Regions from separate parts of the Homo sapiens genome. Here region 1 is linked to region 2. Evidence: fine-mapped expression QTL. A gene starts in region 2. The other region holds a variant in brackets. All regions are shown on one strand. Distances are between the middles of the regions.

Region 1 (5,369 bases), 67 kb after region 2:
GCTGGCTGTGGGGGAAATTCACTGGGCAGGCCCTTGTCATGCTTCAGATGCTTTCGGAGTGTTCTCAGGGCTGGGGCCTGTCAGCCTCATAGTTCCCAGGAGTGTGCAGAGGGGCTAAACACCCGTCTGTGTTCCAGCCAGCTGAAGCACCTGTCTGGTGCGAGTTCTAGACAGGACAGTGGTGGGATCTCACTCAGTTGCTCCTGTATGGAGTAATTTGTTGGCCATCTGCCTGTTAAGGGCACTGGGAAAAAGCAGTGCAGTGATCCAAAGGTCTGCTCACGTAGCAAACATTTGTGCACCTGCTGGGTGCTGGGGTCAGATAGTGTGGCCCTCATGAGGCAGATGACACAGACAGGTGAGCTGTACAGTTACCTTATGGTGAGGTGAGAGCTGAGATGGGAGAAGTGCAGGGTGCTGGGGCACACAGAGAAGGGGTCCGGGGTCCTGACTCAGGTTAGAGGGGTGGTCAGAGAAGGCTTCCTGGGGGCAGTGCTGTCTAAGCTAGACCGGAGGCCAAGTGAGAATGAGCCACGCTGCCCCAAGGCAGTGTAGTGTGTCAGTTCTTCAGAGAGTGGGGAGGGGGTTTGGGCAGCAGGGAATGGAGCCAGAGGGCCGAGGAAGCTGGTGAGTTTGGGGATATGGTGAGGGAGACCGTGAGGCAGCGGGTGGCAAGAGGCCAACAGGGCCAGGGCAGGGAGGGCCTCAAGAAGTGACATAGAGGCCGGGCGCGGTGGCTCACGCCTGTGATCCCAGCACTTTGGGAGGCCGAGGCGGGCGGATCACGAGGTCAGGAGATCGAGACCATCCCGGCTAAAACGGTGAAACCCTGTCTCTACTAAAAATACAAAAAATTAGCCGGGCGTAGTGGCGGGCGCCTGTAGTCCCAGCTACTTGGGAGGCTGAGGCAGGAGAATGGCGTGAACCCGGGAGGCGGAGCTTGCAGTGAGCCCAGATCCCGCCACTGCACTCCAGCCTGGGCGACAGAGCGAGACTCCGTCTCAAAAAAAAAAAAAAAAAAAAAAAAAAAAAGAAGTGACATAGAGTGGTTAAGAGCCTGGACTCCAGAGCCAGGCTGCCTAATTCAAATCATAGCTCTGCCTTTTACTAACTCCGGAGCCATGTTAATAAAGAGGACCAAAGGAGAGAATGAATTTGAAAAGTGAAAGGAACAGTGCCTGGCATGTGGTAAGAACTTCGTAAATATTTGTTAAGAAAAAATAAACAAGGAAGGCAGTTAACATTTAAGTATTCATCTTCTACCAGCCGCCATTCACAGCATTTGTGTTTCAATTCGTTTGATCCTCACGATGTTCTCATGAAGTAGATAATGTAGTTATCTCCGTTTTGTGCTTAAGGAAACTAAGACCCAGAAAGGTTCTTTTGCTTGAGGCCACAGAGCTAGAAAGTGGTAAGAACCAGCTTCAGAACCAGGCAGTGTTGCTCCTGAGCCATCTTCTTAACCACCACACCGTGGGGCCACCATAGAGGATCTGGAGCTCAGCCTGTCGGCTGCAGGGTGCCAGAGGTGGACTCGTTTAGGGTAAGCAGGGCCGGCGCTCTGGCCCTTCCAGACTTGGGACTGTGGAACTCCTCTGACCACGTGGTGACCCATTTTCAATCCCCACCTCCAGACACGTACAGGAATGCAGAACTGGACCCCGTTACCACAGAAGAACAGGTTCTGGACGTCAAAGGTTACCTATCCAAAGTGAGAGGCATCAGTGAGGTGCTGGCTCGGAGGCACATGAAAGTGGCTTTTTTTGGCCGGTAAGTCCTTGAGGCACCCACCCTTTCTTTCTTCCTGGCTAGGAGGGAGGGAGGCACTTTGTGCAAGGTCACAGAACGTTCCAGGCAGGGACATGCTTCAGAATTCATTGCTTTCCTCTTAATTTATATTTTATTTATTTATTTGATTTTTGAGACAGGGTTCTCTGTCACCCAGGCTGGAAGCTCATTACAGCCTCGACCTCCCTGGGCTCAGGTGATCCTCCCACCTGAGCCTCCTGAGCAGCTGGGACTGCAGGTGCATGCCATCAAGCCTGACTTTTTTTTTTTTATTTTCTAATTAAGGTTAAAGGCATATAATATAAAATTTACCACCTTAACCATTTTAAGCATA[C/T]AATTCACTAGTAGGTATATTTGCAACCAGTCTCAAGAGCTTTTTCATCTTGCAGAACTGAAGCTTGTATTATAGCCATTAAACAATAACTCCCTGTCCCACATGTCCCTTGCCCTGGCCACCACCATTCTACTTTCTGTCCCTATGAATTTGACTATTCTAGATGTCTCACGTAAGTGGAATCATACAGTATTTGTTTTTTTTTCTCCATTCATAAAACTTTTATTCCACTTACATGAATTTAATACACGTGTTCTTAACAATTGTGCTTGTATTGTTCATGAAAATTTCGTAAGACATTAAACAAAGCTAGCCATCATCTCAAGTTATTTCCCTGTTAACTATTTTTACAGTGCATGCATGTTAGGCAAGCATCAAAAAAAAATCACAAAAGCAAAGAATCTAAAAATATGCCGGGCATGGTGGCTCACACCTGTAATCCCAGCACTTTGGGAGGCCGAGGCAGGTGGATCACGAGGTCAGGAGATCGAGACCATCCTGTCTAACACAGTGAAACCCCATCTCTACTAAAAATACAAAAAATTAGCCGGGTGAGGTGGCGGGCGCCTGTAGTCCCAGCTACTTGGGAGGCTAGGGCAGGAGAATGGTGTGAACCCCAGGGGGCGGAGCCTGCAGTGAGCCGAGATCGGGCCACTGCACTCCAGCCTGGGCGACAGTGAGACTCCATCTCAAAAAAAAAAAAAAAAATCTAAAAATAAGTTAAATACGTGTTTTTTTTGTTTTGTTTTACTGCTAGCTTGATATACATGAAGTATTCATTTTTCCTGCATCTTTACTTTTACATTTGTTCTTAGGTTGCCTGAAACATTTTAAATACAAATAAAATGAGTGTAGCAAAAATAATGAAAGCTAACAGCAGATAACTTTACAAATAATGGAGTGTGAACCATTTCTGCCCTTATCCAGATTGAAATGGGTCACAACTTTGTTTAAAGGAACACTTCCACAGCTGTAGTCAAAGGTGTGCACATTGAGATTGAGTATTCCACAGACACACATGGTTTAACATGTGATAACCATGGGGTATCTGTTTCTACCACAGCCTTGTAAGTGCTCCAAACCTTAAAGTACCCACATTTACTATACCTGTGACTGGAACCAATGATCCTTTTTATTCCCCACCAGGACAAACCAATATGTAGGCAGTTTTCTTTGCTTTGACATGGAAGCAGTTTTAACACTGGCCCTTGTGAAGCCACAATGTACCTAAAGTACTAGGCCAAACATTTATAACTTGTATAATGACCAGGCACGGTGGCTCACGCCTGTAATCCCAGCACTTTGGGAGGCCAAGGCAGGCAGATCACAAGGTCAGGAGATTGAGACCATCCTGGCTAACACGGTGAAACCCCATCTCTACTAAAAATACAAAAAAAATTAGCTGGGTGTGGTGGCGGGCGCCTGTAGTCCCAGCTACTTGGGAGGCTGAGGCAGGAGAATGGCATGAACCCAGGAGGTGGAGGTTGCAGTGAGTCAAGATCGCGCCACTGCACTCCAGCCTAGGTGACGGAGTGAGACTCCGTCTCAAAAAAAAAAAATCTAATACAAGAAAAAAGGCATCTAGACAGATTGTATGCTAGGCACACAGTGGTAGCCTGGGGAATAGGCACTGTGCCTAGAGTCTTGACCCTGATGAACTGTAACCTCAGGTGTGGTCCTCTACTCCTCTGAACTATCATTTCTTCATCCTCACCTGGGAGGTATGACCCCCTACTTAGGTGAGCTAGTGGGCTTCCTGTCTCACTGGGTGCAGGTAAGGTCATTGTAGTTCTGCTCTAGTGATATGGCTGAGAAACTTCAACTCAGAATGAGAAACACTGTGTTTAGCACAGGTTGAAAGCTCTGAGACTCAGAGCAGATGAGTCTGCTGAGCAGAGCTATTCTCAAGAAGCAGAAATGGTGGGGTGCAGTGGTTCACACCTGTAATCTCAGCACTGGGAGGCTGAGGCAGGAGAATTGCTTGAGCCCAGGAGTTTGAGACCAGCCTGAGCAACATGGCAAGACCCCATCTCTACCAAAAATTTAAAAATTAGCTGGGCGTGGTCGCAGCTATAGTCTATATATAGGTGGTACCTATAGTCTAAGCTACTTGGGAGGCTGAGGTGGGAGGATCATTGAGCCCTGATGGTCGAGGCTGCAGTGAGCTATATTCATGCCACACGCTACTGCACTCCAGCTTGGGCGAGAAAGCAAAATCCCATATCAAAAAAAACAAACAACAACAACAACAACAAAAAACCCCACCAGAATACATGAAAGGGGTGTGATAGGTAAGAATGAGAAAGTAGGCTGGGCATGGTGGCTCATGCCTGTAATCCCAGCACTTTGGGAGGTTGAAGCAGGCAAATCACCTGAGGTCAGGAGTTCGCGACCAGTCTGGCCAACATGGTGAAACCCTGTCTCTACTCAAAATACAAAAATTAGCCGGGCATGGTGGCACATGCCTGTAGTCCCAGCTACTTGGGAGGCTGAGGCAGGAGAATTGCTTGAACTCAGGAGGCAGAGGTTGCGATGAGCTGAGATCGTGCCACTGCACTCCAGCCTGGGCGACAGAGTGAGACTCTGTCTCAAATAACAATAAAAAAAAAAAGAATGAGAAAGTAACCTTCCCTTTAGCCTGGCAGTTGTCAGCTGGGACTCACAAGGTGGAGCTTCATGTGTAAGGAGGAGCGTGATGGGAGAAAAGCAGCGAAACATGCCCTGTGTAGGAAACACTGGGGTCATTTAGACTGAGGAAGACACTCTGGGGGTTAGTCGGTGTTTCAGGTAGGCCTGAATTAAACTTTGGAGACAGACAGACAGTCTCTATAAGTGTTGCTGAGGGTGGCTGTGTGATTCAAGGGGCAGACAGCACGCAGTGAGCCTCTTGTAGATTGATCTGAAATGATGAACCAGGGGCATGTCAGAGGTTTGGGCCTGGGGGTGTTTATTCATTTTAATAAACAGTGCCTACTCTTTGTCTCTCAGCACTGTCTGGGCACTGGCAACATTGCACTGAATAGGGCTTTGGCCTTCCAGGCTGGTATCTGCGTTGTGAAAGTAATTCAGGTCAGATACTGGTGGCTTTGCTGACAGCTGTTACTTCCTTCTAGGACGAGCAATGGGAAGAGCACCGTGATCAATGCCATGCTCTGGGACAAAGTTCTGCCCTCTGGGATTGGCCACACCACCAATTGCTTCCTGCGGGTAGAGGGCACAGATGGCCATGAGGCCTTTCTCCTTACCG
Region 2 (5,369 bases):
TATGTATGTATTTATTTGTTTATTGAGACAGAGTCTCACTGTGTTGCCCAGGCTTGAGTGCAGTGGAACGATCTCAGGTTACTACAGCCTCCGCCTCCCGGGTTCAAGTGATTCTCCCGTCTCAGCCTTTGAGTAGCTGGGACTACAGGTGCAGGCCACCACCCATGCCTAAAACAGCCCTGGCAGAAGCATTCAATAGACACTTGCTGAATAAACACGTGCTGGGCCCCTTTGCTACTGATGGATTCAACAGCCCTAAGATTTAAAAACATACACACACACAACTTTGTTTCTGTGAAGATGACCATCCTCTCGCCGGGCGCGGTGGCTCACGCCTGTAATCCCAGCACTTTGGGAGGCCAAGGTGGACGGATCATGAGGTCAGGTTAAGTTTTGTATTTTTAGTAGAGACAAGGTTTCGCCACGTTGGCCAGGTTGGCTTGAACTCCTGACCTCAGGTGATCCACCTGCCTCAGCCTCCCAAAGTGCTGGGATTACAGCGTGAGCCACCGCGCCCAGCCAGCACATTCTAGCCTAAAAAGATGCCTTATTTTAATTTTAATTTTCACTTTTCTAATGTCTGTCTTCCTCCCAACCAGAATTTAAGCAAGCACCATGAGAACAGGAACTCTGGTTCCCATCTGCACCCCCCCATGCATAGAACAGCCCTGGCAGAAGCATTCAATAGATACTTGCTGAATGAACTCAACTCTCTGAGCAACCAAACACAAAGGTTCAGACAATTGGAACCCTGGAAACCAAAACCCCTCTCTCATCCAGAACAGGATTTTCTTTTCTTTAACAGTCAACGAGAGGAGAGTTTTCATCGGGCGGGAGCATCTCAACCTGCTAAAAGGGATTCTCCAACCTCCCTGTGAACCAGTTGCAGCCACAACTGCCAGGACGCACCTCAGCCTAGCAGGGGTTATGTCAAGAAGCCCACGTCTGTCACCAGGCCGACTGCGGTGCTGAGCAAAGAATCAGGGGATCCACCTGCTGGTTTCACCTCTGCAAACTGACTCTAAAACACTTCACTCTGCTCACATCAGGCCCCATCTACCAAAACAAGTAACAGAAAGAATTGACCTTTACACTCAATTGTCCACTACAGTCTCATAAAAACCTTCTGAGGTAGGCGTTATTGTTATTAAATACAGGCCCAGAGAGATTAGGCGACGAATCCAAAGGTCGCACAGACACTAAGCAGTTGAGCAGATTCAACCACTGGTGAAACGCCAAGCCCAAGTTTCAACCACCCCACCATCACCTTCAGTGTCACCTCTGCAGACTTGGGAGGGACATATCTAGGGTGGACCAAGCGCTGGCCAGGACTCACCTGGGCTGAAGAGCTGAGCCCAGAGGAGCTGGTGGTCTTGAAGCAGCTCCGCCGCTGGCATGTCCAAGAGCTCCAGCATTTCCTTCCGTGCCAAGTCCTGCAGCGCCTTGAGCTCCTTGGCTGCTTTGCTTTTGAGCACCTGGGGGTTAATGGGGCCAGAGACGTGCACCACCCACAGCACCGTCTCATCCAGCTGCGTCTTGGGAGCCACTTGGAGGCGGTTCACCAGCTTCTTGGCGGCCACCACCACCAGGTGCACCAACCCAGTGGGCGTAGGCGGGGACCGGCCTGAGTAGAGGAGGAACTGATGGTCTCCGACCTTCTCCAGGGTACTGGTGAAGGCCTTGGGGGCTGGGCCGGCAGTGGGCCCCACAGTCTGCAGCGCGGCCACGCGCTCCGTGGGGTTGTTGAGCTGGATGCGCTGCAGGTAGACGTGGGGTCGGCCCCTGTGCGCCAGAAAGTCCTCTTGCAGCAGCACGCAGTCGCGGCCGGACCCCGCGGCAAGGCCAGAGACGGAGGCGGGCCCGGGGCCGGCGGCCACGGGGCCAGGACCTGGGGACCCCAGCTGCAGGCAACGCACGCGGCGCAGAAGCCCCTCCCGCAGCAGCAGCACCGCCTCTCCAGCTTCAGCCAGCGCGCTCAGCGGGCGCAGCTGCACGAAGGGCACAAAGTCCGGCGCCACGGCGGGCTCCCGCTCCCCGGGAGTCACCCACAGCCGATTGGCAGCCACGTCCAGGGCCAGGAAGCCGTTGGCCACCAGGGCCGGCACTCCAGGACCCAGCGGTACCACCTCACCGCGCTCCCGCAGGCCGCGCCAGGCGCGGGTGGCCGCCTCCAGGCAGGCAGACGGCTCGGCGGCGCCCGGCTCACCGCGGGACCAGGGCAGCAGGTGCAGGCCGCCCGCCGCCCGCCGCGCGCCGGACCCCCCAAACCACAGAAGCAGCAGCAGGAGGCCAAGCAGGCAGAGGAGGCGGCGGGCCCAGCTGCTCGACAGCAGTCCCGGCAGCCCCTTGAGCCGCTGCTGCAGCCACATCGGGCCGCCAGGCGCGGGCAAGGGTGCGAGGGCGGCCGCCGGGCCCGCCGCCCAGCCCACCGGCCCGGCCGCCCGCGCCTCACTGCCCGGCCCGGACCGCGGCGCCCACCCCGGCCCCCGCCGCAACCGCCGCAGCAGCCGCCACCCCTGCTTCCTCCTTCTTCTCGGTGGCCTCCAGCCGTCAAACGACGCCGGCGGTCAAGCGTCGCCGTGTCTTTTACGACAGATGGAAAACGGGAGGGCGGAGGGAGGAGAGAGAGCAGGCCGGAGAGAAGGGGGCGGAGCCACGGCGAGGGCGGGACAAAAGCTGCCGGGGGCGGGACCACTCGTTCCCAGGCCGGAAGAGTGAAGTCCAGTGGAGTTAAGTGCAGGGGTCTGGGGAGGACTGGAAGCATCCAATTCACTCGTGAAAAAAACATCGAGCCAGCCAAACCGAACACGTGTTGGGCCCCTTTGCTACTGATGGATTCAACAGCCCCAAAATTTAAAAACATACACACACACACACACAACAACTTTGTTTCTGTAAAAATGACCATCCTCTCGCCGCGCGCGGTGGCTCACGCCTGTAATCCCAGCACTTTGGGAGGCCAAGGCGGGCGGATCACGAGGTCAGCAGTTTGAGACCAGCCTGACCAACATGGTGAAACCCCATCTCTACTAAAAATACAAAAACTAGCCGGGCGTGGTGGCGCATGCCTGTAATCCCTGCTCCTCAGGAGGCTGAGGTAGGAGAACTGCTTGAACCCGTGAGGCGGAGGTTGCAGGCTTGCAGTGAGCCGAGATCACGCCACTGCACTCCAGCCTGGGCGACAGAGTGAGACTCTGTCTCAAAAAAAAAAAAAAAAAAAAAGACTATCCTCACTGCAAAAAAACACTTGGAACAATACGAAAAAGTGGAGGAAAAAAAAAGGAGAGAGAAGAAGAGGAAGAAAGAAGAAGAAAGGAAAAGGGAGGAGGAGGGGAAGGGGAACCACCAGAGGCCAGGAGTGGTGGCTCACGTCTGTAATTCCAGCACTTTAGGAGGCTGAGATGGGCAAATCACTTGAGGTCAGGAGTTCGAAACCAGCCTGACCAACATGGTGAAAACCTGTCTCTACTAAAAATACAAAAATTAGGCTGGGCACGGTGGCTCACGCCTGTAATCCCAGCATTTTGGGAGGCCGAGGCCGCCAGATCACGAGATCAGGAGATCGAGACCATCCTGGCTAACACGGTGAAACCCTGTCTCTACTAAAAATATAAAAAATTAGCCAGGCGTGGTGGCAGGCGCCTGTAGTCCCAGCTACTCGGGAGGCTGAGGCAGGAGAATGGCGTGAACCCGGGAGGCGGTGCTTGCAGTGAGCCAAGATCGCGCCACTGCACTCCAGCCTGGGTGACAGAGGGAGACTCTGTCTCAAAAAAAAAAAAATAAATAAATAAAAATAAAAAAATAAAAATGCAAAAATTAGCTGGGCGTGGTGGTGGGCGCCTGTAATCCCAGCTACTTGAGAGACTGAGGCACGAGAATCGCTTGAACCAGGGAGGCAGAGGTTGCAGTGAGCCGAGATCGCGCCACTGCACTCCAGCCTGGGCAACAGAGCGAGACTCCGTCTAAAAAAATAAAAAATAAAATAAAAACTAACCACCAGAAACTAGACTTCCCCAAAAATATTTTGTTAACAGACCTGTCTAGCTGCATGCACACCACACGTGGACACAAATCCAGCCAAGGGCCATCAATGTCTCCACTACACCAAATCGTCTTCTTGATGTCAGTCCTAAGTTTTAACTTATTAAATAACATAAGACACTAACGTCTCATACTTTGAAAATGGCTTTAAATTGTGAATCATCGATGCAAAAGATAAATATTGCTTTGTATTTTGGGAAAAAAATTCAATATAAGCACAGAGGCAGACAATGGGTGATTGTTTCCACTTTGGTTTCAGTACATTCCAAAGCCAGACAGTGCTTCCCAGTTGTTGGAAATTAAACGGTCATTTGAGGTGGCCTCTGGTGGGCTGTGAGCAGACACAGAAATGTTTGCTGAGGCCAGTGCCCTTTAGAAGGAACTGTCCAGGTGGTCCTACAGTCTGCTTACCATTTTTATTTTTTTTATTTTTTTTATTTTTTTTTATTTTTTATTTTTTTGAGACAGAGTCACACTTTGTCCCCCAGGCTAAAGGGCAGTGGTGCAATCTCAGCTCACTGCAACCTCTGCCTCCTAGGTTCAAGCAGTTGTCATGCCTCAGCCTCCCAAGAAGCTAGGATTACAGCCAACACACCTGGCTAATTTTTGTGTTTTTAGTAGAGACCAGGTTTCACAACATTGGCCAGCATGGTCTCAAACTCCTGACCTCAGATGATCCAACTGCCTCAGCCTCCCAAAGTGCTGGGATTACAGGCGTGAGCCACTGCGCCTGCCTTATTTATTTATTTATTTATTGAGACGGAGTTTCACTCTTGTTGCCCAGGCTGGAGTATAGTGGCGCGATCTCGGCTCACCACAACCTCCACCTCCTGGGTTCAAGCAGTCCTCCTGCCTCAGCCTCCCGAGTAGCTGGGATTACAGGAACCTGCCACCACACCTGGCTAATTTTTGTATTTTTAGTAGAGATGGAGTTTCACCATGTTGGCCAGGCTGGTCTGGAACTCCTTACTTGTGATCTGCCCACCGTGGCCTCCCAAAGTTCTGGGATTACAGGTGTGAGCCACCACCCCCAGTCCTATTTATTTATTTATTTATTTAGAGAGAGGGTCTCACTCTGTTGCCCAGGCTGGAGTGCAGTGGCACGATCACAGCTCACTGCAACCTCCATCTCCCAGGCTTAAGTGATCCTCCCAACTCAGCCTCCCAAGTAGCTAGAACTATAGGCCGTCACCATTATGCCCAGCTAATTTTTTTTTTTTTTTTGGTATTTTTTGGAGAGGCAGGTTTTTGCCACATTGCCCAGGCTGGTCTTGAGCTCCTGAACTCAAGCAGTCCTCCTACCTTGGCCTCCCAGAGTGCTGGGATTA

Evidence for each region. PIP is the estimated chance that this variant, and not a neighbour inherited with it, causes the effect. A credible set is the group of variants that fine-mapping cannot tell apart.
Region 1: its variant is the best candidate, but not a certain one, in a credible set for the expression of KIAA2013 in whole blood (TOPMed, PIP 0.64).

Annotation. Positions count from the first base shown.
Region 1 is chr1:11,990,921-11,996,289 of GRCh38, forward strand. It overlaps MFN2 (mitofusin 2), which reads left to right. Exons shown (of 19, transcript NM_014874.4): 4 at 1,635-1,770; 5 at 5,236-5,369. Among named protein-coding and RNA genes, the nearest start is that of MFN2, 13 kb to the left of the region's middle. The variant C/T (reference allele first, on the strand shown) is at 2,123.
Region 2 is chr1:11,923,869-11,929,237 of GRCh38, forward strand. KIAA2013 reads right to left here and starts at 2,559. Exons shown (of 3, transcript NM_138346.3): 1 at 1,337-2,559. The coding sequence starts at 2,369. RefSeq lists enhancers at 1,503-2,165, 2,166-2,829, 2,484-2,778 and a silencer at 2,414-2,483.